Linked DNA regions of Homo sapiens: regions 1 and 2 are each linked to region 3. The links come from fine-mapping of genetic effects on gene expression. A gene starts in region 3. Each other region holds a variant in brackets. All regions are shown on one strand. Distances are between the middles of the regions.

Region 1 (5,358 bases), 35 kb before region 3:
TAAGGATCTTGCTTGAAATAATAGAATTCCTATCACATAGGAACTTGAGCTCCTGGGCAGCAAAAATATAACAAATACCCCTAAACTATAACTCCTTCACTAATTAAAATCTGTATATATCCTTCTCTCAAAAATATGTTTCTGCCAAATATAATGATATCATCGTGTATAATTAAAACACATTTTTTTTACTCTTGCAACAAGGAGACCATCCAGAGTCCCATTATATACAAATCTAAATACATGTCTTGGCTCTTTAGTCACAATCTATTCTTCTCTAATTTTGCCTCCATCACACATAAATATTGTTCAGCCTGTGAACTCAGTATGCTCTATATGAAATAGTGGTGTGCTCTATATGAGCATACTGTGAACTCAGTATGCTCTATATGAAATGAGCAGGAAATAAAAGGTAGATTAGTTAAATATGTAACTATATACAAAGAGAGAGAGAGACAGAGCAAGTAAAATAATACAGAAGTGACTACACTTCTTGTTTATGGAAAATCATGAAGATGAATATGCCTTCCCCACTCCTTCATTTCATGTCCCCTTTGCCATCAGCCGGCACAAAAGCTGGTTGAATAACATTATCTCTGGGGTAATCCAAACCTTTATTCCTGAGAATTCTAAGTCTTAGATGATCCTGCTGTATATGACTAAAGTCACCTTTAAGCCATTTTTAATTTATTGCTATACTTGGCAATGCAAAGGTCTTCCCCAGCCCCACTTTCGTCTCAGTTGATTCTGTCCATTCTCCTTTCTGCCTCCACTGTGAACTAGCAACTCTATTTTTCTTCAGTGTCAGGATTAATCACCCCAGACAGCACTATAATCCCTCTTTTTAGTATACTCAACTCATGGTGAAGAACCTAAAAAGACCAAATAGCTGTCTCAGCTTCCAACTCAAAAGAACACTTGTTACAATGCCTGGTGGATGCATTCATCTCTTGCTTACTAAATCCTCTAAGCCAGAAGTGTTTGGAGTTAGCACAATTTCTAGGGCACATTATGAGCTGTAACCTGAAAAGCATAAAATTTTCTATCACCCTTCTTCTCCAGACTCGCATATTATCTATCTCTGAGAGAAATCATTCCATATACTGCTCTCCTGAACAGGAGTTCCAATCTCATAAGGAGAACTCCTAAATGAAACTGTAAGAGATCCTCCAATGAGCCTCTGAATTATACTGTAAGTGAGCTGCTTTGGGATGATAGGGTACATGATAAAACCACTTATCCCATGACCAGCAGCATATTACCTGATTTCACTCACAAAATAACAATTTCATGGCCAGAGAAATGTTGGACGACATAATCTGATGAGCTAAGAGGCATCTGTTAAGTCCATAATTAACGGTGCTTCTAGAAATATAATAGGCAGAAAAAACAAATCCAGTCCATATCCTTAAGGTGTTTTTCAGTTGGCACAAATACTTGATGTCCCACTAAAAAAAGTAATCACCCTGCCAAAAGTCCCACCCAGGTTCTAGCTCCTTAGCTAAAAATGGACTAATAATTCTACTGGAAAAATTGAGCCCTCAGCAACAGTGATAGCAAAATAATATAGAGAATCTCTCCTTAGTATATTTGTCCCTTTGGCTGTTGTAACAAATTGTCACAAACTCAGTAGCTTAAAACAACAAAAATTCATTCTCTCACAGTTCCGGGGTCCAGAAGTCAGAATCAAGACATCAGTAGGACCTTGTTCCTCCTGAAGACTCTAGGAGAATCTCCTTCCTTGCTTCTTTCAGCTTCTAGTGACCCCAGGTATCCTTTGGCTTTTGACTACGTAACTCCAATCTCTGCCTCCATCTTCACATGGCCTTCTCTGTGTCTCTCTTCTCCTCCACTGCCTCTTTTTTAAAAAATTAATCATAATAATTGTACACATTTGGACGTACATGTGATATTTTGATACATGCATATACTATGTAGCAATCAAATCAGGGCAATTGGGGTATCCATCACCTAAAACATTTATCATTTCTTCATATTGAGCACATCCCAAATCTTCTCTTCTAGATATTTTTAACTATACAATAAATTATTGCTAACCATAGTCACCTGACTGTGCTAACACTAGAGCCTATTTCTTCTCTATAACCATAATTTTGTACCCATTAACCAACCTCTCTTCATCCCTCCTTCCCCCTACACTTTCCAGCCTGTGGTAGCCATCATTCTACTCTCTACCTCCATGAGATCAACTTTTAAAGCTCCCACGTATGAGTGAGAACATGCAATATTTGTCTTTCTGTACCTAGCTTTTTGCACTTCACATAATGAGCTCCAGGCTCATCCATGTTGCCATGAACGACAGGGTTTTCTTTTTTGTGGCTGAATAATATTCCATCCTGTATATATACCACTATTCATCAGTTGATGGACACTTAGTTTGCTTCCACA[T/C]CTTGGCTATTGTTCTGTCTCTTATAAGGATACATTTTGATGGATTTAGAAGCTACTCAGGAAATCCAGGTGATCTTGTCTCAAATTCCTTAACTTTATTAGACCTGTAAAGACTCTTTCTCAAATAAGGTCATATTCACAGATTCTGGGGATTAGGATGTGGGCATATCTTTTGGGGACCATCATTCAATCCAACACAGTAGTTTTCACTATCACCATTGCTACATAATTCATGAGATCATTATGCAAGTATGAGGAGAATGGGCGGGGAGGCTGACTGACATCTAGAGAGTGAGTTATCATCTATCCTGAACCTTAAGAGACTCTTGATAAGCATTCAAATGGTACACTAATATTTTTCCACTCTGAGAGCATTCAGATGGAAAAAGATATCCACTACCCTCTACCAAAATATTCTTGTTACTTCTAAGCTTCTGACTACCTGCTCAAATTATTAATCATTACCCACTGGTCCACTGGTTTTTGTTATTACTTAACTCAATCTATGACTTCTTCCAGGCAAATTAGACAACAGGATTACTTCTCTTTAGGACCAGCATTGAATTAAGAAGTACAATCATTTACCATAAGTCCACCAGTGCTGGCCCCAGGAAATCAGGAAGAAGCATCTGTAAACCAAGAGCTATCTATCTATCTACGTATCTATCCATTTATTGATTTATTTGGCATCTCAGGCTACTAATTAGTCACAGGAATCCTTCCATGAGGCCACTGGGGTTGAGAGAGAACAGCAGCGTAGCAGGATGATACCAGGAAGATGAGAATCCTCCTTGTGCAATTTAACATGTGCATTTAAGATTGGCTTGGAACCATTCCTGTGCATATGTGTGTGTGTATATGTGCACGTGGATGCATGGGTATGTGTGCATTTCACTTGAGGGAGTACTGCTGTGGATTCCTCACTTTATTTTTTGGTGAATGAGCTTGTGACTCATTCATAATGGGAAATTCAGATCATAATGCCAGGTATTTAGTCCTACCAAGGTCCAGTAGCATTTCAAGAGTTGTTTCTCAAAATAGGACTAGTTACTTACTGGAGAGGTCATAACTTTGATTTTTTAAATGATATTAGAGGTCTTGACTGAGAATTTACTACTGGAGCTCCATAAAGCATCCCAATCTGCTACAAACTCTTCAAGCTTCATTGGATCCGCTGGATCAAATGGGCTGCCAGGTAGAGTTGATTGCACTGCAGCCTGGACTGATTGCCAGGAGCTCTGTTGATATGAGTTAGTGAGGAGACAACATCTGGAACAGCAGCTGCACTTGGAGGCACCGCCTAATTAAGCTTACGATAATCCACACTCATTCTCCAAGACCCATCTGTCTTCCCCATCAAACTAATTGGAGAGTTGAATGGAGCTGCGATAGAAATGACCACAACCTACCATTTCAGTCATTGATGGTAGCACTAATCTCTCAGATTCTATGGGAATATCCTACTGCTCTTGGTTTTTCTTTTAGTAAGGAAGGTGAGATCCAGGACTTCCATCCTTGTTCTTTCCTTTCATAATAACTCTTATTCCTGAGTTAAGAAGTAAATGTGAGTATTTAGCCAGTTGTCTAGAGTATCTTTTCCAAGAACACACAGGAAATGAAGGGAAAAAGAAGAGGATGTGTCTGTAGGTCCCACTATGCCTACAGTGAGATGGGCTTGGGTCAAGACTCTATCACCTGAACATCATACATTTCTACTCTGACCATTGAACCACAGTGCCATTCTTCTATAACAGACATGTGTAATTTGGGAGCCATTATCTTAAAACAACTGAAAGGTCTACTTATATTCTTTTCTTCAGAATATATTTACACCAGAAAACGACCACAGGTCTAGAAATAGAGTAATGACTCTGTTTTTCCTTTGGTGAGCTTCATCCTGAGACATGGGGATTTTATGCAAATTTATTAGGAACTTTGTGATTGCCCATATATCTCAGATCTATAGACTCAATGATCAATAAATCAGTGTTAAATATCTATGTGTCTCTATTAGGGAAAGCACGAATAAATGGCCTCTGGAGGTTAAGTGCCTGACTTCTGCACCTGCCCTTCTCAATCATAGGATCTTTCCAATCTCCACTGTAATCAGGCAGACTATTTCAATATTAGTCCCTCCCATCAATATCCCCAACTGACAAGAGAAGCCACAATCACATTTTTGTAGATACTAGTAGTTCCCTCATAAGTATTTCTCAAGGCCTTAGTAAAAATGGTCATCTATGTCTACTTAGGCAACATAGTTAGGAAGTAGATGAGATTCATGTTATAAATTCGGTCATTTTATTTCTTTCTAGGTACTATTGTAAATAATTTATGGCATCTTAATTTTCTTTAGCATGATCAATAATCTATACAGCTTCCTGTATTAAAAGTAGCTTGCCCTCTCTATGAATTCAGATAATTGCACTATATGAAAAAAAAATAGACTAACCTAAGACTACATTTATTCACTTTTTGGTTGAGCATGTTTGGAATTTAATAAGACATATTCTCCCCTAGGTATTTTATTATACAAATTGTTAAGTATATTTATTTTGTGTATTTATTTTGTTGTATAAAACTATTACACAAAGTTTGACAACATAAATTAGTATGCTGAAATCCAAATTCAGTTACCAGTTTGAAATGAAAATGGGGGAAAGAGGGTTAGGATCTGAAGAGAACTGACTTAAGAGTGGGAAGGACTGCCTCTTCCAACAAAGAAAAGGGTTTTTACCTGAGCTATTTTGAATGCACCAACTGGCTAAGGAAGCTTAAAGAATTTGGATTCTGTGGCTATTTCAAGTCCTTCAAATCCTCCCATATATCTCCATTTTAATATTCAGAATGTCACTCTGTCCCATTTAATATTTTAACTCTCACCAAAGAAGCTGAAGAGGGGATAAGTAATGTGTTAACTTGGCAACTCAAGACTACCCTTTTTATTTA
Region 2 (5,358 bases), 25 kb before region 3:
TCATCCTAATCATGGGGATCAGAAAAGGCTCGATTGAGTTACTGATGTTTACACTAAAAAGATTAATAACATTGAGTAGATAAAAGGAAAGAAGTGGAGAACAAGGACTGCATTGTTGTAGTATTGGCTAAAGAAATTCTTAAATTGGGGTTTTAAAAAAGGCATTTGGAAAGAAAAAACCTTAAGAGGGGCATGCAAGTCAATCTAAATATATTTTTAAAGGATTAACTATGTTTTCTGTGAAAAATTCTGTGTACTGGGAGGGACATGGATTAGTGAAAATGACTGAGGAACAGATTCCAAGTGGAAGAAACACCTGAGTGAAGAATGGAAGGCAAAATTCTGTGTGTATTGGCTTGACCATGGAAGAGAAGCTAGGCAGGAAAGAGGTTGCAGAGAGATGAGGAAAGTCAGTAGAACCTTTACTATCTGAGAAACTATGGTCTAGAAAGTAAATACAAAATAAATGAGAATAAGAGGAATTCGAGGCTAGAAGGGGAATCCCTGGGATACTGTGAGTGTTATTGCCTGGATTAGGGTAATGCGGCAGATGCTTGGTGCCCTGCCCAAATCCCCTTGGCATCCCATTCCCATTTCCATACACACCACCTGCTACCTACCACAAGCATCTGTGACTCTCCATCCTCGGGCTTTCTCTGGCCACAGAAGCATGCCTGGTCTATCTGGGGCACAGGCCAGAAGTTTGGGGAGGTTAATGCCCTTAACCAGTGAAGCACGGAAATTAGCTGATCAGTACCCTAGTTCTCTTGCCCCAGCAGAGGGGGACAACTCTGGGGCATGTTCTACTCAGTCTTCCAGCGCTCTCTTTCAGGAGAGAGCACCGGGACCTTCTATTAGCTTTCTTCACTTCTCTGTATTACTTCTCTACTCTCTTAGCCTTTCTGAGATCAACTCCAAAAAAACTGCTTGCATCAAATCCTGGTCTCATAGTCTGCTTCTGGGGAAACTAAGTCTGAGCAGTGAGTTACTAAGAAAATTGAGGAAGAGTGGGGAGTCTTTGGAGATAGCGATAAAGAGATATTCCCTCGTTGAGTGTTTAACCTATGAATTAACTGCCCATCCCCATCATACACATCCAACTCCACGTTCCCCTGATAACAAAGATAACACTTCTTAGTTACATTCTGTTTATCCACTAAATGTACAATAATGGATCACACCAATACTGTCACTGAGAGAGATATGATCCCGCGTTTACAAAAATTTGCAAAAATATAATTTTTAGTGTTTTACATTATTGAGTCCTGGTTATTAATCTCTGCTTGTTTTGGTTACCACATCACAGTGAATGAGAACCCATAAAGTCAGGACATTTCAACATTAATAAAGACCTAAAACACACACAGGCAGAACACTCACTTTATAGGTATTGGAACTGAGACTTAGGGGAAAGAAATGACTTCAGCAAAGTCACACAGCTGGTGACAGGAGGCCTGGGAGTAAGATCTGGTTTCCCTTTCTCTCTGCCAAGTTCAACTTATACATAGCTGTCTTCCAGCAGGGCCAAATACCTTCAAAAATAATAGGAAACTTTGGTTTTACTACACACACACACACACACACACACACACACACACACACACACAAACACAGTAATAGACCAAGATGAACCACTTTGAAGGAAGTTGCCCTTAGTGTTAACAAAAGAGCAGATTTTAGACACAGAAATCACGATTCATAACATTCAAAAACTTGTCCTCCTGCCACGTTTTTTTTTCTGGATTGAAAGATAATAGAAGTTATGTATAGGAGAAGCAGTTCCCTACCCTCTGGTAATGAGAAGATATTTATCTAAGTGACCTTTGTTATTTAATACAGAGAAGACTTTTCAAGTAAGACAGGAAATAGCTGATATCTACTTATCAAAACACCACTCACCAGAATTTAGAAATGAAAATAAAAAAGGGAAAGATGAGTTTGAGCTGAAAACTTCTAGAAAAAAGCAACAAAGACAACCAATGTTGCCCCAGAGGTTGGCAAATGTTAACACAGTTGCGTTGTGGAAACTAATTTGGGTTCACAAAATCAGATGTGTAGAAAGTGCATCATTTTTATAATTATATAACTGAATTAATTTCCGTATCAAGCTCGCAGTCCCCCAGGTGACAAAACTTAATTTCCAACAAATCATGTCCTTGTGCCAAGGTTGCCTCTAAGTTTCTGGGAAACCTTGCAATGTGCTGGAGCATCCACGGGAGAGGGGGATGAACTTTGGATCTGGGTTTTCCATCCATACATGTTCCTGCTCCATCTGGCTCACACTGACCATCAAGCTCTTGCGGTCAGCTGAATTTCAGTGTCGTGTTTGTACCGTTTTCCTATGGCTGCATAGGAAAATGGTTTGCTTCTCCTCGTGCCATGCTGGAGAGTACAGGGACTCTCGGGAGTTAACTCAGTCCACTAGCCTGGACACCAATCATGACATTTCATCTGCTCCTGTGCCATGGAAAAATTCAGGGAACTTGCTGTTTTCCCAAGCCCTCCCCAGAAAGGCAGCACCAGTCTCTTCTATATCTCAGATTTTCAGCCGCTTCCAGGTCCTGGGACTCAGGCCATGGAGTACAGGCAGAGAGTTTCCAGGAACAGCCAATCTCTAATTCCCTCTCCTTCCCCAGCCCATGTACCTCCTCCAGCCTAGGCTCTATAACTAGGAAAACTGGCCCTGGCTCATTACAGATTCTTCCAAATCTTGCCTGTGTTTCGACCGCAACTTTTGACAATTCCATAAGGCAAAATGTT[C/A]ACTCTGTTTTTTCTCTCTGTTTTGGATGCCTCATGGGTTAGCTGCTTAAGTAGATAAGATGTCACGGAATAACAACTGCAACAACAAAAAAAAGTAGAAGATTAATCAGCAATTAATATATGAAAATATGTCTTCAGGGACAGTGACACAAAATTTAATTATTATTCTACCATTTCATGTGTAATATAAGATCAAACAGTGATTAAAATCGGGACTAGTGAATGACAGTGAGTCTGCAAATAGTAGGCCGTTTCCAAAACAGCGTGGCAACAGATAGGAAAATCTTAGACACACACACACACACACACACACACACACAAGCTCTACTCAGAGTTTTCCACTAATAAAAGAAAAGCTTAATGCTGTATAAACTCACCCCCTCACTACCACCACCACCAATGTGTTGAAGTGCTAGCTTTACCCTACTGATTCGCTGGTGGGTTGAAGGGCTCATTATCCCACCCACTGTAACTTACCTATTGATGGAAGTGTCTCCTGTGGATCATTTCATTTTAATTGTTTTACTGTACCAGTCCCTAATACAGTCCCACCCAGATCCACAAGTTACTCAACTTTTCATCTTCACAACAATGAGATGAACAAGTTCCATCCTCTTGATTTGAAATGTACAAGAACAAGACCCACAAAGCACAACAGTGGCTGAGCTGGGACTGGAATTCAGTTGTCTTTATTTTCAGTTATGTGTTTTGTTCTATTTTGTTCTGTTTGTGTTGTTTATTGTTTTTATCCTCTGGGCCATGCTGATTCCAGTGTTAGCCGATATCAGAGATGTGAGCCAAGTATGTCTTAGCCTTGAAGCAGTTCATTCCTGACTTCTTTTTTTTTTTTTTTTGAGACAGAGTCTCACTCTGTCACCCAGGCTGGAGTGCAGTGGCGCGATCTCCCCTCACTGCAAGCTCCGCCTTCTGGGTTCACGCCATTCTCCTGCCTCAGCCTCCCAAGTAGCTGGGACTACAGGCGCCCGCCACCACGCCTGGCTAATTTTTTGTATTTTTAGCAGAGACGGGGTTTCATCATGTTAGCCAGGATGGTCTCGATCTCCTGACCTCGTGATCCACCCACCTCAGCCTCCCAAAGTGCTGGGATTACAGGCGTGAGCCACCGTGCCCGGCCTCATTCCTGACTTCTTTAAGGTAGTAGATGTCATCTCAGTCATCTCATTAGATGATGGCATTTGACTGGAATCTAAAAACATTTTATTTGAATTTTATGGAAATATATTTGTCTCCTCAGTAAGCAGCAGCAGTCAGTAGATAGAGTTAGTTCTCCTATATACAACAATCTTATTTAGCAAGAAAACATTTCTTAGAAAATAATTTCTAGGCTAGAGACACAATTTTAATTAAGTAGAAACCACTCAATATAATAGAAGCTACAAATAACTGTTTTGTGGATATCCTTCTCAGGTCAAAAATAATTTGGTAAAACAACTTCCTGAAATTATATCCATTTTAGGTCTCATTACATCATGCAATTGAAAGCTCAATGAAATTCTGATTAGTAGCCTGCTGTTAAATGATACCACATAAAAGGCAAAATGTCATTTAATTGATAAGCAACTAAAAACTTAACTAGGCTATATACCCTCAGCAAATGAGTATACATCAAAAACAATGATGTTATATTTCTTCATTAATCCTAAAAATGCACTCTGGCACATGCAATGTGCTGAGTGAAGTTTGTCTTTGTACCCAACACCCTCCTTCTTTAACTTGAAGACAGGCTCAGTCTCTCTTATTAACCAGTATTTATGGAGCACTTACTTGGGACAAGTTACCATGCTAACCATTATGGGGTCTTAAAATGAATAATAAAAATGGTCCCTTCCTTAAAGTATTAGTTTACTAAATATCTGTTACAGAAGATATATTATTTTTAATGCTAAATTTCTAAAACTAAATCCTAGACATTAGACAGGAGTATTGATCAAAGCTCAGGCAGCCAACCTTTGCAGGCACCAATCTTTTCTCCAACATTCTTCTAATTCCTGTCAATCTTGGCTGATGATCACAGCAGCAGCCATTCAAAGTGAGAAGAACTGTTCCCTCTTGAGCTCTATGGTCCATTTATGGCCACCTCACCTTTTCTTTACTTATTCATAGCACAGCTGAGGTAAAGCCTGCATATTTCAGCGAGGTTTATTAATAACTAAGGGACAAACAACAAAAGAGAAATAAACACACACACACGCACACAAACACACACACACATACACGCAAACCATGGCATGTGATGGTGTGATTTAGACCATATATGTATTTATTCTGTTTAAGGAGTCACTTCCCTGTCTAGCTCCGAGCCTCACATCACACGGAAGAGGCTACCTATAAACTTTACCACCTTAGAAGCACAGTTGAGAATTTCTAGATTCAGCAGGCAATGGACAGAATGGTTGTGATCATGGGCTTTGAGGTCAGTTAGAAATGAGTTCAAAACCCAGCTTTGCTATATTTCTGTGTAGATTTCAGCTGTAAGTATCTATAATCCTCTGAAAATTGCATTAATAATGCCTGCCTTATTGGGTTGTTCTCAGAATTAAAAGAAATAACAAGTACTTGCCACATCACAGACCATAA
Region 3 (5,358 bases):
CATAATGACTTTTCCTTTGCTCCAATACCTTTCTTATTTCTGACTTCATTCTGTTGGTTTTAAAAATATGGACAGCTTTTAAGTGTAGCTTTATACATTAAAGATTGGATATTATCAGTTATTGGACAGGTACAGTGTGTCATACAGTGTTTCATGTGATTTGCAAACATAATCTCATGTAAGTAAGGTAGTCCTTCTTATCCAAGCTTTACAGATGATGAAAATATGGTTCAGAAAAAAATTAAGCCACTTGCTTAGATTCACACAGTTTTTGCAAGTTAGAGTTCAGATTTGAATCCAGGTCTTTCTGATTCTAAAATTTGAATTCTACCCACTGTGTTATGCTGCTTCACAGAGAATCATCTGAACATGCTGTACTGTGTCTTGGGATGCATTTTTATCTATAGGTAATATTTAATGTAGCAGCATTTTTCTATATGTATTCCATGGATGGCACTTATTTTTAATAGACTTTATTTTTTAAGCTGTTTTATGTTTACCAAAAAATTGAACAGGAAGTACTGAGAGTTCCCATCTATCCCCTCCCTACCTGTTATCCTCCTATTATCAACATCTTGCAATACTGTGGTATATTGGTTACAATTAATGAGCCAATACTGATACTTTCATCAGTGTTGTGGTTTTCTTCATATAGAACTTGTAGATATTTTGGTAGATTTATATCAAAGTATGTCATTTTGTTGTTGTTGCTAATGTAAATGGCATTGTGTTTTTTATTTCAAATTCCAATTGTTCATTTCTGGTATATAGAAAGCAAATGATTTTTGTATATTAAGCTTGTATCCCGCAATATTACCATGTTATTTATTGGAATGCCACTTTTTAATATTATTAAACATTCTTATCATATGATGATCTGAAGATGTCCATAAGGTGACAAGTTGCCTTATTATAAAAGACCCTCTGCTCTTTAATTCTAAAAAGTATATTCTAGATTTGAGATTAAAATTATTTCATTCATCTGTCTTCATATAGAATATTTAGTCATCTCGGGGATTTCTACAAACAATTCATGAGTTACTTTTAATTGAATATTATCATGCTTCTCCAAACTACAATGTGTAATTAGAAACAAAGAAATTGTATTTAAGTGTTACAGATTATGAATCTGCATGGGTGAATATGCTTCTGGAAGAACTGGTAACAAAATGACTTTTTTCCATTGCTCGTGAAATACTTGTCCCGAGGCACTCTCGTGTTTTTCTGGCCACGTATATGTGACATAAGCTCCTGTTGGGAGTTTCCCACCACAGGTATGCATTTCAGGGCACATAGTGGATGGAGCAGGTCAGGGCTGCTGGACCATGGAATCAGTATGATCAGAAGGGCCCTGAAGAAGTCGCAAAAAAGTAAAAAGTTCTGGTGTCATCCCATGTAGGCCGACAACAACAAAAAAGTTATAGGTATACAGTGTATCTTTATAAAATAAGATCAGGCCAGGCGCGGTGGCTCACGCTTGTAATCCCAACACTTTGGGAGGCCAAGGTAGGCAGATCACAAGTTCAGGAGATCAAGACCATCCTGGCTAACATGGTGAAATCCTGTCTCTACAAAATACAAAAAATTAGCCAGGCATGGTGGAACGCGCCTGTAGTCCCAGCTACTCGGGAGGCTGAGGCAAGAGAATCACTTGAACCCAGGAGGCGGAGGTTGCAGTGAGCTGAGATCACGCCACTGCACTCCAGCCTGGGCGACAGAGCAAGACTCTGTCTCAGAAAATAATAATAATAATAAATAAATAAGATCAACAAAATTTGATAGGTATAAAGATCACTGTATACCTATCACTTTTTTGTTGTTGTCAACCTACATGGGATGGCCCAACACTTTTTTGTTGTTGTTGACCTACGTGGGACCACATAATTATCAAGATAGAAATAGAAAAGCTATTCAAAATGTACTTCAATGTCATATACAGTGTATATTTATCACTTTCTTAAAAGCTTGGGACAGTGTATAAAATTACTTTTGTTGATATAGTTTCAATTTTCAGAGTGTAAAAACTGTCAAACCTAGATAAGACACTCTACTTTGAATGTAAAGTAAATTTCTAAAAAGTACTTATCCTTTTTTAGGTTTAGATAATTATTTAGAGGTGTGAGAGCATGGAAAAAGATATGACAAGAACAAGACAGTTTCTTATAGTAATCTGGTTCAAGAAATAATACAAACATATATGAATGAATAAATTATCAAGGTCAAATTAATGTAGCAGAAACTGAGACTGCCAAATGGACATACAAGAGAGTCAGCCGCAAAGGATCATGAAAGTTTACATGACCACAGTTATCAATTTGGAAATAGAAAATCTATTTAAAATGTACTTAAATATCATATTAATCTTCTATACACTTCAGAGAGGTGGAGTTTCATTGTTGCTGTTGTTACTAGTGTTTTTGTTGAATAACCCATTCTTTAGGAAGCACATAATGAAATTAACTCTGACTCCCTCCTTCTTCCCACACTGTCCCACAACCTCTTCCTCTGCCAGCAAGACTTGGAAGGAAGATGATTGTTTACAAGGGAAGGTAGATTAGTTTATGTTACTCCCAGATCTTGTTACACCATGAAATCATATAGTAAACATAGCTTCTAGAATTTTAACTTCCATATGTTATATTATCAATTCAGACCCCCCAAAACTAAATTTCTTTGAATATCTAATTTTAATAGGTTAGATGCTCTCTGCCAATTTTTCTCCTTAATATACAAACCTAACATGATAATAAAAACCAATAACAAAATCAGAGGCTTCCTAGACAGTAGCCCATCTTCATTTCCAGGTTAAAGATTTTGGTTGAGACTATTTGCAAGCATATAATAATAATTCCTGTGCAAGAGAGTCTCTATTGAATGATACGTACTCTGAAGATGGTATGAAGGAAAGAGGCTCTTAGGAAGATCCAAGCTGGCTGCCAAGCTTCCATATCCACTTCAAGGTTTCCTGTAATATTAAATGCTTGGCCTTCACAGAAGATATTTCCAAAGACAACATATACATTATGTTGTATATGTTGGGATAGTCAGGGCTGGAGGCTCCCAAACTTGTATATGAAACATGACATAACAGAAAGAGCAGGCTATTTGGAGGGAGAAGGTTGGGTTCAAGCCCAAGCCCTCAATCTCATTGACACTGCAAACAGGGACATCACTTAACTTCTACGGGTCCAGTTCACAAGTCTGCCTTACCTCTCTAGATAATAGTTTTGTTTTATCAAATCAAATGATGTGAAAGTAAGAACAAAAGAAGACATTGGTAAGATATTCAAGAGGTTAAAAGAGGATGTGGTAAGTGATTACCATATTTCTCCCTCCTCTTTCTTCTCTTAGTTTTAACTGCTTAGCAAAATATTTACTGAGTGCCTGCTAAGTTTCAGCGATAAGCCCTGGAGATACAGAGGGAAAAAAAAAAATGACATGGTCCCTGACCTGAAGTAGCCAAGGAGTGACATTTACCTGACTTTACTTTTATAAGGATCACTGTGGTTACTACATTGAGCATACATGACAGGCAGATGACGATGCAAGCAGAGATACTTGGTTTATACACTACTGTATCATTTCAGGCAAAAAAAAAAAAAAGGTAGCAGCTTGTACAAGGGTGGTAGTAGCGAAAGTACTGAGGATTCAACTAAGATGAGGACCAATGACTAAGCTTTGGATTTAACACAGCAAAAAGATATTCAGTGTTCTTGAAGCACAGACAACGTTTAATGAAAACTAGGAGATCAACAGAGGGTTACTCATAACAGAATGAAAATTCCATGAGGCACATTGGAAAGAATTGGAAGGGAGGTCAACAGGAGATGGAAGCATAGGAGAGAAACAAGCACCAGGTTTAGAGAAGCTTGCTTCTGGGGCAATAGATAAACACTTGATAGTCGTGCATGCACAGAATTCTGTGCAGTTGGCCCAACAAGGGTGTGGTGCCTCGGGGTAGAATTCATCCCGAGTACGTGAGGAGACAATCCTCTGCCTCCATAGTTGCTCACTTTCATGCAAAACCAGCTGTTACCCATTTGGTTGGGGAACTGAGGTAAACATAGTGGAACTGAAGAGGATTGGAGTGGAGTAGCAGAGTCCTAGCCCTTGAATAGAATTTTTGCCAGGTAATTGATGAGAGTGTGGATGAGCACAATTATACCTATTATTTATTGGGTACATACTCTGTGTCTGCCATGCTTAATCTTCACCACAGAAAACTTAAAGATACGTGTATTAGTCCATTCTCACGCTGCTATAAAGAACTGCCCAAGACTGGGTAGTTTGTAAAGGAAAGAGGTTTAACTGACTCACAGTTCTGCAGGGCTGGGGAGGCCTCAGGAAACTTACAATCATGTCCTTCTTCACGTGGCAGCAGGAAGGAGAAGAATGAAAGTCAAGTGAAGGGGGAAGCTCCTTATAAAACCATATGATCTCGTGAGAACTTACTATCACAAGAATAGCATCAGGGGAACTGCCCCCATGATTCAATTACCTCCGACCAGGTCCCTCCCAACACACATGGGGATTATGGGAACTACAATTTAAGATGAGATTTGGGTGGGGACACAGCCAAATCATATCATGTGTTATCATCTCATTCTAAAAATGAGAAAAGTACAGCTCAGAGAAACTAAGTAATGTACCTCATCTACCCATCTTCACACAGTTAAGTGACAGCATTAGGATTTGAATCTCTCCCTCTTTCCATTTTGCTTTGAAGAGCCAAGGAAACATGTCACATTTTAGAAGATAAGGAGTTAGGATTAGGTGGAAACACAACATTGGTAACACTGGGGAGACGGGACTGAAATAGTCTGTATAAGAAGCAGAACTGACTTAGGGTCAGCTGAGGTTTTTGGCCTTCCAAACCAATCCTTGTAGCTTATTCCGGTGCAGGCCTTGGTTGTTAGTGGCTCCTGGGCTGCCCCACAGTACCTATGAAAAAATGGAAAGGAACAGTTACCTTCTAATTTTTCCAACCTAAAAGAAGTAGTTAGTATTTTAGATAACTTTCCAAGTGTTGGTATAAGTGAATAGTTTTCTTTAATTAAGACTATCTCATAAACTCTTACCTTTTCCAAATTCTCACCCTTTCAAGTCTGACAGGAATAAAAACTGTTGTTACCATGCATCACCGTCACCAGAGCTTCCTTACTTTTTACAAGCAGCTGAGCACACCATGGGGCTGAGGAAAGTACAGAATTGTTGCCAAGTGCAGGTAGAACTCGTGAACCTGGCATGTTCAAAACCACGAATAATAAATACAGGAGTCAAAGGACTTGTTTTTGGCCAGGATTTAACTCTTTAGGAATGTATTCTTCAAAATATTTAGGGACACATTGCTTATTATGT

Evidence for each region. PIP is the estimated chance that this variant, and not a neighbour inherited with it, causes the effect.
Region 1: its variant is fine-mapped to the expression of LINC00402 in whole blood (INTERVAL, PIP 0.92).
Region 2: its variant is fine-mapped to the expression of LINC00402 in whole blood (TOPMed, PIP 0.98).

The regions. Positions count from the first base shown.
Region 1 is chr13:74,264,383-74,269,740 of GRCh38, reverse strand. It overlaps a transcript of KLF12 not described here. Among named protein-coding and RNA genes, the nearest start is that of LINC00402, 36 kb to the right of the region's middle. The variant T/C (reference allele first, on the strand shown) is at 2,410.
Region 2 is chr13:74,254,411-74,259,768 of GRCh38, reverse strand. It overlaps LINC00402 (long intergenic non-protein coding RNA 402), which reads right to left. Exons shown (of 2, transcript NR_144451.1): 2 at 1-2,836. It also overlaps a transcript of KLF12 not described here. Among named protein-coding and RNA genes, the nearest start is that of LINC00402, 26 kb to the right of the region's middle. The variant C/A (reference allele first, on the strand shown) is at 2,761.
Region 3 is chr13:74,229,280-74,234,637 of GRCh38, reverse strand. LINC00402 (long intergenic non-protein coding RNA 402) reads right to left here and starts at 3,194. Exons shown (of 2, transcript NR_144451.1): 1 at 2,886-3,194. It also overlaps a transcript of KLF12 not described here.